Regions from separate parts of the Homo sapiens genome. Here all the other regions are reported to be linked to region 2. The links are microRNA targets in miRTarBase. Many come from high-throughput screens and were not tested one by one. Region 2 holds a microRNA gene; each other region holds the end of a gene's coding sequence.

Region 1 (3,176 bases), not on the chromosome of region 2:
AGCTGCCATCCAGGAACTGCAATCCAGACCCAAATTGAGGTTTCCGAAGTTTGACAGGTATCCTGTGAATCCATGTAATAAATATTTTTGTCTTCTCCACAGAATGTGAATGGCATAAAGTATCACGCTAAGAATGGTCACAGAACACAGATTCGTGTCCGCAAACCATTCAAGTGTCGCTGTGGGAAGAGTTACAAGACAGCTCAGGGCCTGCGGCACCACACAATCAATTTCCATCCCCCGGTGTCGGCTGAGATTATCAGGAAGATGCAGCAATAACATGCTGGTCATAACTGTGCCAAGAAATCCTCACCAGCAGTTGCTGATTTTGAAAACAGCCACCTTTTTTCAGGGGAAGCATTCAGCAACCCTTTAAAGAAAAAGAATTAAATGCATGCTTTAAATTTTTTCTGTAATTTTGGAATGATGTATCTTTGTAGAGTTAATGATTTTGTACATTTGCACATGTAATCATCATACCCATTTTCATTACTTTGATATAAGGTGCTAAACAAAAAAAGCTCTAGGTTCTTCAGCACATTTCCCCCAAAACAAAATAAAATTGAGGGCATGTTGCATATTGTTGAATTGTATTGCGGTGGTATCAACCTGGGGGGAGGAGGGGCTGGCACTGAGATTTTTTTTTCAAGATTGTAATGTGATTGAAGTTTTCAACACATCAACTCACATATGTTCAAAACCAAAATAATACCTTCATTATCAAACTGGTTACCATGCCTTACATAATGGAGTTAGTATTTGTGAGTAGAAAGACTTTAGGTAATGGAAATATAAATAAGAAAGAATGTTTAACATAATATGCTAAAAATATTTTCATATTTAAATAACATACGTAAAGGTGTGCTTTCTGTGTTTTATATTATCTTGCAAATCCTTTTGCCCTTTAAAAAGCTGAAAATCTTGCCATCTGACTTACTAGTCATTTTAGTGTTATAAATGGCATTTTGTACAAAATAGTCTATTCAGTTCGTTCATTCATTTAACACACATTGATTGAGTGCCTGCTGGGTACAAGGGATTCAATTTATGCCTATTGATATCTGCGGACCAAGATACCCATTTAGTGAAATACTTTTTTCCCTGAAATCTGTTAGAAAAGACTTTGAAATACTTCAGTGCAAAGTGTGTGTGTGTGAAGTTTAGTTATATCTTCATCTTCAGATGAAGTTTTAAAGCACTTTGTAGTTCTCTATTGCCAACAATTTAATGTTTATGTGTTGCCAATTCTTGCAACCACTGCCCTACCAAACCTGTGGGTTGCAAATCAGAACTAAAATTCTAAGCACGTTTCAAAGATGAACACTTTTGTTAAGACCCCTATTGCCTCTTCTTCATGCTCATTTTTTACTTTTTTTAAAAGGTACTTTTCTCATCACATTGTAGAGAGGTCTGCATTCTCATTGGAAATGTCTGTTTAGCTTTATAAAACAAACACTTTGCTGAAATAGGAAAATGAGCCTTATTGACAATTAAGTGCTTCTTGCAGCAGGTGGTCAAAGAAAAGCATGACTAATACGACCTATTAGAGTAATCTACATCTGGACCATTCCTTAAGTTTTTCCTCACCGACAGTACCATCATGCCTTGAGTGTTCTTTTCTCCCAAGTGCTATTCCTTAAACACGAGAGTTTACCAGTTGCCTAATAATGCAATAAAAAATGCTTTGAGATAGCTAACTGCCCATAAAACAAACTCAAATTGCTTATAAAGTTTCTTCCCATGTTCCCATTTGATGAAAAGTCTTACATCACATATAACTGGGAAGCAGGGGTCCCTCCTCAATTTTCAGACATTTTGAAAGGATGACAGTTCTGTTTGTTAGATGAGTAAACCTCTATATTCATAAGTTCTAAAATCCTTCATTATGAGGGATTCAAAGTATTTATAAAAACACTGCCCTCTAAAAATTTCCTCAGATCTGAAGTATGGTCTTGGTCCTGAATATACAGTGTTATCCTATGTTTAAAAGGGTGATCCAGACATGAGACGCAACTAGTTGGTGCATAAGAAGGCCCCACTTGGCTATTTCATATCTACCTACAATTGACCAAAAAAAATTTTTTAGGCCAGCAATTATTATTTAGCTTCGCTCTTTCTAGTGCAAGAAACTGCAGGCTGGATCAGTAGTTCAACAGCTAAACAGTCATAAAATAGTCATTGTGCATGTTAAATTTCTTTCAATGCTTTCAAAGATAAATTCCAATTTCTATTTACTTATTCATTGTGACAGTATTACTAAACAGGTAAGGATGGGAATATTTTGTTATACTGTGTATAGTGAATGTATTGTACTGTGTCTGTGAAAACTGTGCTTTAAATTATATTTTCATATGTTTTGTTGGGGACAGAGCACATTAAGTCTGAAAGCAACAGAGGTTTGTTTTAGAACTGAAGGCAATTTAATCAAAATTCCTGTCAAGAAAAGCTGCTTATAAATGTAAATGAAATCACATTTAAAATAAACTGCCTCTGACCCAAAAATAAATATGGCTCTTTATTTTCCTTAGTGTCCATTATGAAAACCAGTATCAAGTTTACCATGGAAATTAATATATCCATTCAGTTCCTCATTCTAAGGCTGTTCAGTTGATGCATGTAGACTTTATTCCCTTACATTTTTGCTTAGATTAGATTAGGCTGTATTACTTTTCTGTCAATAACAAATTAAGCTTGGACTTACTTACTTAAACTATTTTAAAATAAGTTCTAGGCTAGTAAGATGAACAGTGTCTACTACTATAATAAATATTCCAAGGATACTTTTGGATTAACATGGTCCATAATTATTAACTCCAACAAAAATGCTCCCATTGTTGAACATATTTTACCTAAGTATATAACCTATCTGGAAGCTGAAAGTCTCCAAAGCTATTGCTTCCTAGGACTGCTGTGTCCTAACAGCTGGCATATGAATGCCTCATACTGGTTTGCCCTAGACTCAAAAAACTTTTTAAAGGATTCTAACAATATACAAACTCTGCTTCCACAAACAAATACAAGTGACGACATGATATGCTGCAGTTCACATATAGCAACTCAAAATGCCACCAAGTCTAAATATTAGGTTAACATCTTCAATAGCTAGTTTGCTCAGAACAAATGTAAACTATTTTGATGATAACTACAAAAGCGGCAAAATCAAAAGTTGGTGCTTT
Region 2 (3,176 bases):
GGCGCACTGTGCTGGGTCTGAAGGAGTGGGTAGATGGGAGGGAGGACATGGCACATGGCTAACAGAGCTGGTTAGGGGAGTGGGGAGAAAATCAGAAATACAAAATGGCCCACGTGCAACCAAAGAACATCCATCTAGTTACACTAACCAGGCCAAGGAAACAGTACTGGGCACCTGAGGCCCAGATCTTACCTATTAGTGAGCTCTAGTCTTGGGCATTAAAAAAAAAAAAAAAGTGCCCTAAGGCCATATCTGCCTCAATACCAAGGGCATTTCCAGGAGGTCCTCTTAGGTTGGATTAGATTCTGAGCAGTAACCACCATGCCATCTTCATGAACAAAGCAGGAGTTGTTTTGGTCAACCACCTCCCTAAGGACAGAACCACTGTCTCATTCCCAGACTTGGCACTGCCTCCGGAAAACCCTGAGACTGAATGTAAGATTGATCAGAGGTGGACATTGGTATAAACAGAAAACTTCAACACAGGAAAGCAACTCTTCAATGCCACACAGCGGAATGAAGGATGGACTGGTGGGTCCCCCTGAAGGTAGTATTGGCTCCACGAAGCCCTCCAAAGCTGGCAGGCTACTGGGAAGTGGTAGCCCATCTCACACAAATCCCTCCTTTCGCACAGGCCACATGGCAAATCATCTCTTCCAGAACCACGGCTGAGGCTGGAACCGGTGTCTTGAGCCCAAGTTGCATCACTTCCAGAAAACTCCCCAGAGAGTGCATTTAGTGCCCAGAAGAGCCAGGCCTTGTTGCACAAGTCAGACATCAACCATGAGCCACAGAAATTGCCGTGGAGCAGTGCTGAAGCTAAACCACGTGTTCTCTTCCCTGAAGTTGGCAACACCTCCAGGAAGCCCTCCGAGGATGGATTGGATACTGAGAGTTAGTGGACCATGTTACATAGGTCAGAAATCATAACGCCTACGTTCCATAGTCTACCATCTCTTCAGGAACCACGGAATGGTGCTGACCCCAGAACCAGGGCCTTGCCCCTGAAGTTGGCGTCACTTCCAGAAAGCTTTCTGAGGCTGGATTTGGCATTGGAAGCAGGCACATGGTGAACATAAACAACCCCTCCTCCAATGTGGGGCAGTGGCATTGATGGGGGAAGGGGTGCCTCTACCCTAAGTGGTAATTCCTCCAGGAAGGCCATGTCAACTTGGAAAGACTGCGACAAGGCAAAATGTACAATACTGACCATGCTTTGGCCATTATGTGGTCAACTATCTCTTCATCAAGATAAAGGGCAGTGTTTTGTTCTGCATGGCAAATGGGACACTCCAAGAGCACAGTTCATCATATAAAAGGGGACCCTCAACCTCTAGGTAAAAACTTCCCTAGCTCACCCAAGTTCCGATGGTCCTCGCCATGCTCTAGACCACCTTTGGAGACTCAAACCACAGAGCTGAGTGGGCAGTGCGTTCCTCCAGCTCCTGATTAACCTCTCCACCTCCTTCAGGAGGTCTTCCTTGATTTTCTCCATCCCCTTTCATGGCACAACTATCCCATGTGAATGGAATGCAAAGCAATGATTTGTTAGCCTCCAGGGAAAGGACAAGGGCAGAACCCTCAGCAGCCCTGCAGGACAGCTCGGTTGTCCTCTAAAGTCCTGAACCCCAGTGTAGACGGGGCCCTGCAACTCAGTTGTTGAAGTCCTAACTCCTTAGGAAGTCATTCAAGGCATCATGCTCCCCTGCTCCCTCCAAGTGTGAGCTAGTCTAGTCTAAGAGATTACCCTCCATACCCCGTGCATTGTCCACATGCCTTTGCTGGCACTACTCCTCCACCCAGACCCCGTGTCTGCTTACATCTCTCTGAAGCCCAACCAAATGGCAGTTCTTCCACGAGCCCGACCCCACCTCAGCCAACTCAGGCCTTTGCATCCCTGACCCTCCACAGCACCCTGCCTGCACCTCTCCTCCAGCCCACTCACATTTTCCATGTGGTCACTCGTAGAAATAAACTTGTGTTTACTGAACATCTGTGAGGTGCTGGAGCTAGACCAGTAAATAAGACACAGTCTCTGCCTTCCTGCAGCTGCTAGCGTTGTGGGGAAAACCAACATTAAAGTAGTTATTGCAGAGAATTGGTTTCAAAATGTGAGGAGGCCAAAGTGTTGTGAAGGAGCAGAGAGCATTTAACAAGAGGCTCTCGCCAATCAGGAAAACTTCTCAGAAGTTTAGATTAGAAGATAAAGGATGAGGGGACTAAGCCAAGAAGAGAGAGGACAAGAGTGGACACTGTAGGGTAAAAGCAGAGGACCAGATGGAGCATGGACTGGATGGAGCATGGGTCAGATGAACATGGTCGGGGTGGACAGTGGACTGGATGGAGTATGGACTGGATGCAGTATGAACTGGATGGAGTAGTGGTCGAGGTGGGGCGTGGATTGGATGGAGCGTGGTCTGTGTGGGGCATGAACTGGATGGAACATGGACTGGATGGGGTGTTGACTTGGGGGAGTGTGAACTACATGGGGTGTGGTCTGGATGGAGTAGTGGTCTGGATGGGGTGTGGACTGGATGCAGTGTGACTGGATGGGGTGTGGTCTGGGTGAGGTGTGGTCTGGATGGGGTATGGTCTGGATGGGGCGTGGATGGTCTGGGTGAGGTGTGGTCTGGATGGGGTATGGTCTGTATGGGGCGTGGACTGGATACAGTGTGGTCTGGATGGGGTGTGGACTGGATGGGGTGTGGACTGGATGGGGTGTGGTCTGGGTGAGGTGTGGTCTGGATGGGGTGTGGACTGGATGCAACGTGGACTGAATGGGGTGTGGTCTGGATGGAGTGTAGACTAGAAGGGGTGTGTACTGGATGGGGTGTGTACTGGATGGGGTGTGGTCTGGATGGGGTGTGGACTGGATGGGGTGTGTACTGGACAGGGTGTGGACTGGACGGGGTGTGGACTGGATGGGGTGTAGACAGGATGGAGTGTGGACTGGATGGAGTAGTGATCTTGATGGGGTGTGGACTGGATGGAGTGTGGACTGGATGGAGATTGGTCTGGGTGAGGTGTGGACTAGATAGATGGACTGAGGTCTGGATGCAGTGAGGACTGGATGGAGTAGTGGTCTGGATGGTGTGTGGTCTGGATGGGGCATGGACTAGATGGTGTGTGGTCTGGATGGGGCATGGACTAGATGGTGTGTGGTCTGGATGGGGTGT
Region 3 (3,176 bases), not on the chromosome of region 2:
GCACTTGGGAGGCTGACGCAGGAGGACTGCTTGCGCCCATGAGTTTGAGACCAGCCTGGGTAATATAGTGAGAACTCGTCTTTACAAAAAATGTTTTCAATTACCAAGCATGGTGACACGTGCCTGTAGTCCCAGATACTGAGAAGGCCAAGGTGGGAGGATCACTGGAGCCTGGCAGGTGGAGGTTAACAGGGAGCTGAGATGGCGCCACTGCATTCTAGCTTGGGTGACAGAGTAAGACCCTGTCTCAACAAACAAACATCTGATGCAAATAAAGCATTTGTTAAATATTATTTTGTATACTTACCTATTAATCTGAAATACTATATGAAAAAATTTTAAATGTGAAACATAAGCAATATTGCCTTTAACATTTACAGTAGGTTAAACATCTATTCAACTGACCTCTGTTCACTAAAACATTAGTAATGCTCATCTTTTTTATAAATAATTCTCTACAACCTAACACCTAGTAAGTAAAGCTTTTATTGCTTCTCTCCTGGAAATTATCCTATAAATGGGTTAACCTTGTAATGTTGATTCAAAAGCACAAAGGGAAAAGGCAATAGAAGTCCTTTTAAGATCTACTTTAATCTCAATACTTTTAAGTTTTAAATTTTGATCTCATTAACCTTATGAATGTCAACCAACAGAAAAATAAAACACACCAAAAGATCCAGAACTCTTTAAGGATTGTAAAGGGACAAGCTTGAAAGCCTGACGCCAATCCTCTCTTTGTCCAAAACCACCACCCTAACGGCTCCAGCCCCATGAATTCCTAGTTTAAGAATCTCTATATCAGATGCTATCAAAAGTTAGTAATCGTAGCTAACATTTATAGAGTGCCTACTAAATGCGGAACACTGTTCTAAGGGCTTTACATTTGTTAATTCACTTTTAAATCATAAACACACTGAGATCAGGAAAGTGGTTTAACTATTCTTAGTTTCAGTTCCCCGTAGTACAGTACAGTAAGATATTCTGAGAGACCATATTCACATAACTTTTACTACAGTATGGTTTTAATTGTGCCACTTCATTATTAGTCCTTGTTAATCTCTTACTGTGCTCAATTGATAAACTTTATTATAGGTGCATGTATGGATAGGAAAAAAGACAGTTCACATAGGGCTTGGTACTACACTTGGTTTCAGGCATCCCAGGGGGTCTTGAAACATATCCCCAGTAAACAGGAGGGAACTACTTACTTTATTTCCGACTTCCACATAAGCAAACTGAGGCACACAGAGGGCAATTTGCCTACAGTTAAACAGCTAGTAAGTGGTGTAGACAAGATTCAAATCTAGGCAGTTCGGTTGCAGAGCACACACTCTTAAGCAGGAATCTTTGCTAGTTAATTAGACAATTAATGAGAAAAGGTATATCAGGAAAACAATCTAAGAGTTGCAAATAAGTATTTTCTAAATGAGGTCGGAAGAAAAAAGGATAGAACCATAGTCTCCAAAGCATTTCTGTCTGTTTTATTCCTTGCCAAACATTAAAACTGTGATTCTATTTCCTGCTTTGAAAATCAGTTCTGTTTTGCACTGCTCAATGCCTTTAAGATGAAGGTTTCTTTGTAATATTAACAATCAGTGCACTCTTTCTTTCAACTCCTTTATTAAATTGGTTGCAAAAAAGATATACATTCTTATATTGACAATTCTTGTCATGAATAAAAGCATCAAAAATAAGGCAACAGCAAGATGTGCTTCACATATAAACAATCATGTTGTAAGAATAAGAAACCTGAATCCCTGTACAACAAAAAGATTAGGAAGCAAAATGTGAATAAGCTTGTATTCAGAATATACCTATATGTGTGTGCAAAGACAATACACTCATCATATACCTCACTTAGGTTCCTTTATGATGCATAATTCCTTAATCATTCATTTGTGAAACAAGAATGAATATTAAGAAACATGAAATCCAAATTGCACTTATTTTCACAATATCAATGCTAAACTCAAAATAGCAACTTCATTGACTCTCAATGGTAAATTTCAAACATGGAAAGCAATCTTAATTTTTTTAACCCTTTGACTAGGGTCTGTAAAAAACGGTGGATTATTTTACTGTACTTACAAAGAGGCTGGGTCTCAGCCTGCACTTAAACAGCATGAGCAACAAAGGACAGGAAACAAATATCACTAAGAGTAATGCCCATACATATAAAGATATCTAGTTGAGCCACGTTCTACTTACATAGCAAGCCTATTAAACCACTAGCATAACAGATCATATCTCATGAAACAGAATTACTAAATTAACTACACATCTCTCAGAAATTTCCAAATCCCTGCTCCCAACACAATTTTAGTACACCTATTAAGTACCACGGGTCATTTAGAAAAACAGAAAAAAATATACACCTAGTCTTTGCAATTAAAAAAAAATCATAACATAAACAATGTTAGATATAAATTTTGAACTCAATATGTTTTTTCCTACATATTTATGTAATCAAGGCTCTTTAAGCAAAGACAGGTGGTAGGTATATGATCTGTACAAACTTACAGTAGTGTATATTCCAAATAAAGGTTTTTCTTCCTACTATGGTATGACAATATAACTGTTTTCTGAATGAAGATACATGTTAAGGCTTAAGGTGTAAACACTTTGGAAGGCAAACAGCTTAGTGAAAAAAATTATGGTTCATTTAAAAATGTGTATCATTTCATAATAGACCCCTGAACTTTCAAATTTACATGTGAGAATACATTTACATCTTAACTTTCTAGGAAAGGCACAGGCTTTATGTAAAAAAGCAGCAAAGTTTTAAACCCACCAATATATTGACAAAGCCATTACTTTTATTAGAAACAAATAATGCTTCTCAAGGTGTTGGCAACATGTCATAGTATCAACATATACTTCATACAGTGTATTTCTCCCTTTAATTATATTCCGGTAGGAGGTGGAATACCTCCTTGGCTATGAGGGGCAGATGTATTTGATGGACTGTGTAGGCTGGTCTCCTTGTACACAAACCAAGCATTTCCTCCCCAGAGTATCATATTTAGAAAGCCAAATATCTATGAAAGAGAAAAAGAAATATGAAAATCAAATACCTACTTATAAAAATTCATGCCCTACTTAAAAATCTCACTTTTTCTTTAAATATTTAACATTTTTAGGAAGTACGCCATTATTTCACTTAAAGTTTAATACTA

Evidence for each region. The annotated mature microRNA hsa-miR-379-3p reads UAUGUAACAUGGUCCACUAACU and lies in region 2 at 894-915, opposite strand. An mRNA with a match to its seed (bases 2 to 7 or 8) in the 3' UTR can be bound and repressed. Matches are read on the target gene's strand: a 7mer-m8 pairs with bases 2 to 8, a 7mer-A1 pairs with bases 2 to 7 and ends in A, and an 8mer does both.
Region 1: miRTarBase lists JAZF1 as a target of hsa-miR-379-3p. Seed matches in the 3' UTR shown: 7mer-A1 at 740-746.
Region 3: the mRNA of SYPL1 is a reported target of hsa-miR-379-3p. Seed matches in the 3' UTR shown: 7mer-A1 at 2,760-2,766 and 7mer-A1 at 2,460-2,466.

Annotation. Positions count from the first base shown.
Region 1 is chr7:27,829,903-27,833,078 of GRCh38, reverse strand. JAZF1 (JAZF zinc finger 1) reads left to right here. Exons shown (of 5, transcript NM_175061.4): 5 at 103-2,502. The coding sequence ends at 279. Among named protein-coding and RNA genes, the nearest start is that of TAX1BP1-AS1, 91 kb to the right of the region's middle.
Region 2 is chr14:101,019,848-101,023,023 of GRCh38, reverse strand. MIR379 (microRNA 379) reads right to left here and starts at 958; the gene lies at 892-958. It overlaps LOC124903407 (mucin-2-like), which reads right to left. Exons shown (of 5, transcript XM_047432049.1): 5 at 1-3,176. The coding sequence ends at 2,220.
Region 3 is chr7:106,088,902-106,092,077 of GRCh38, forward strand. SYPL1 (synaptophysin like 1) reads right to left here. Exons shown (of 5, transcript NM_182715.4): 5 at 1,604-3,038. The coding sequence ends at 2,904. Among named protein-coding and RNA genes, the nearest start is that of SYPL1, 22 kb to the right of the region's middle.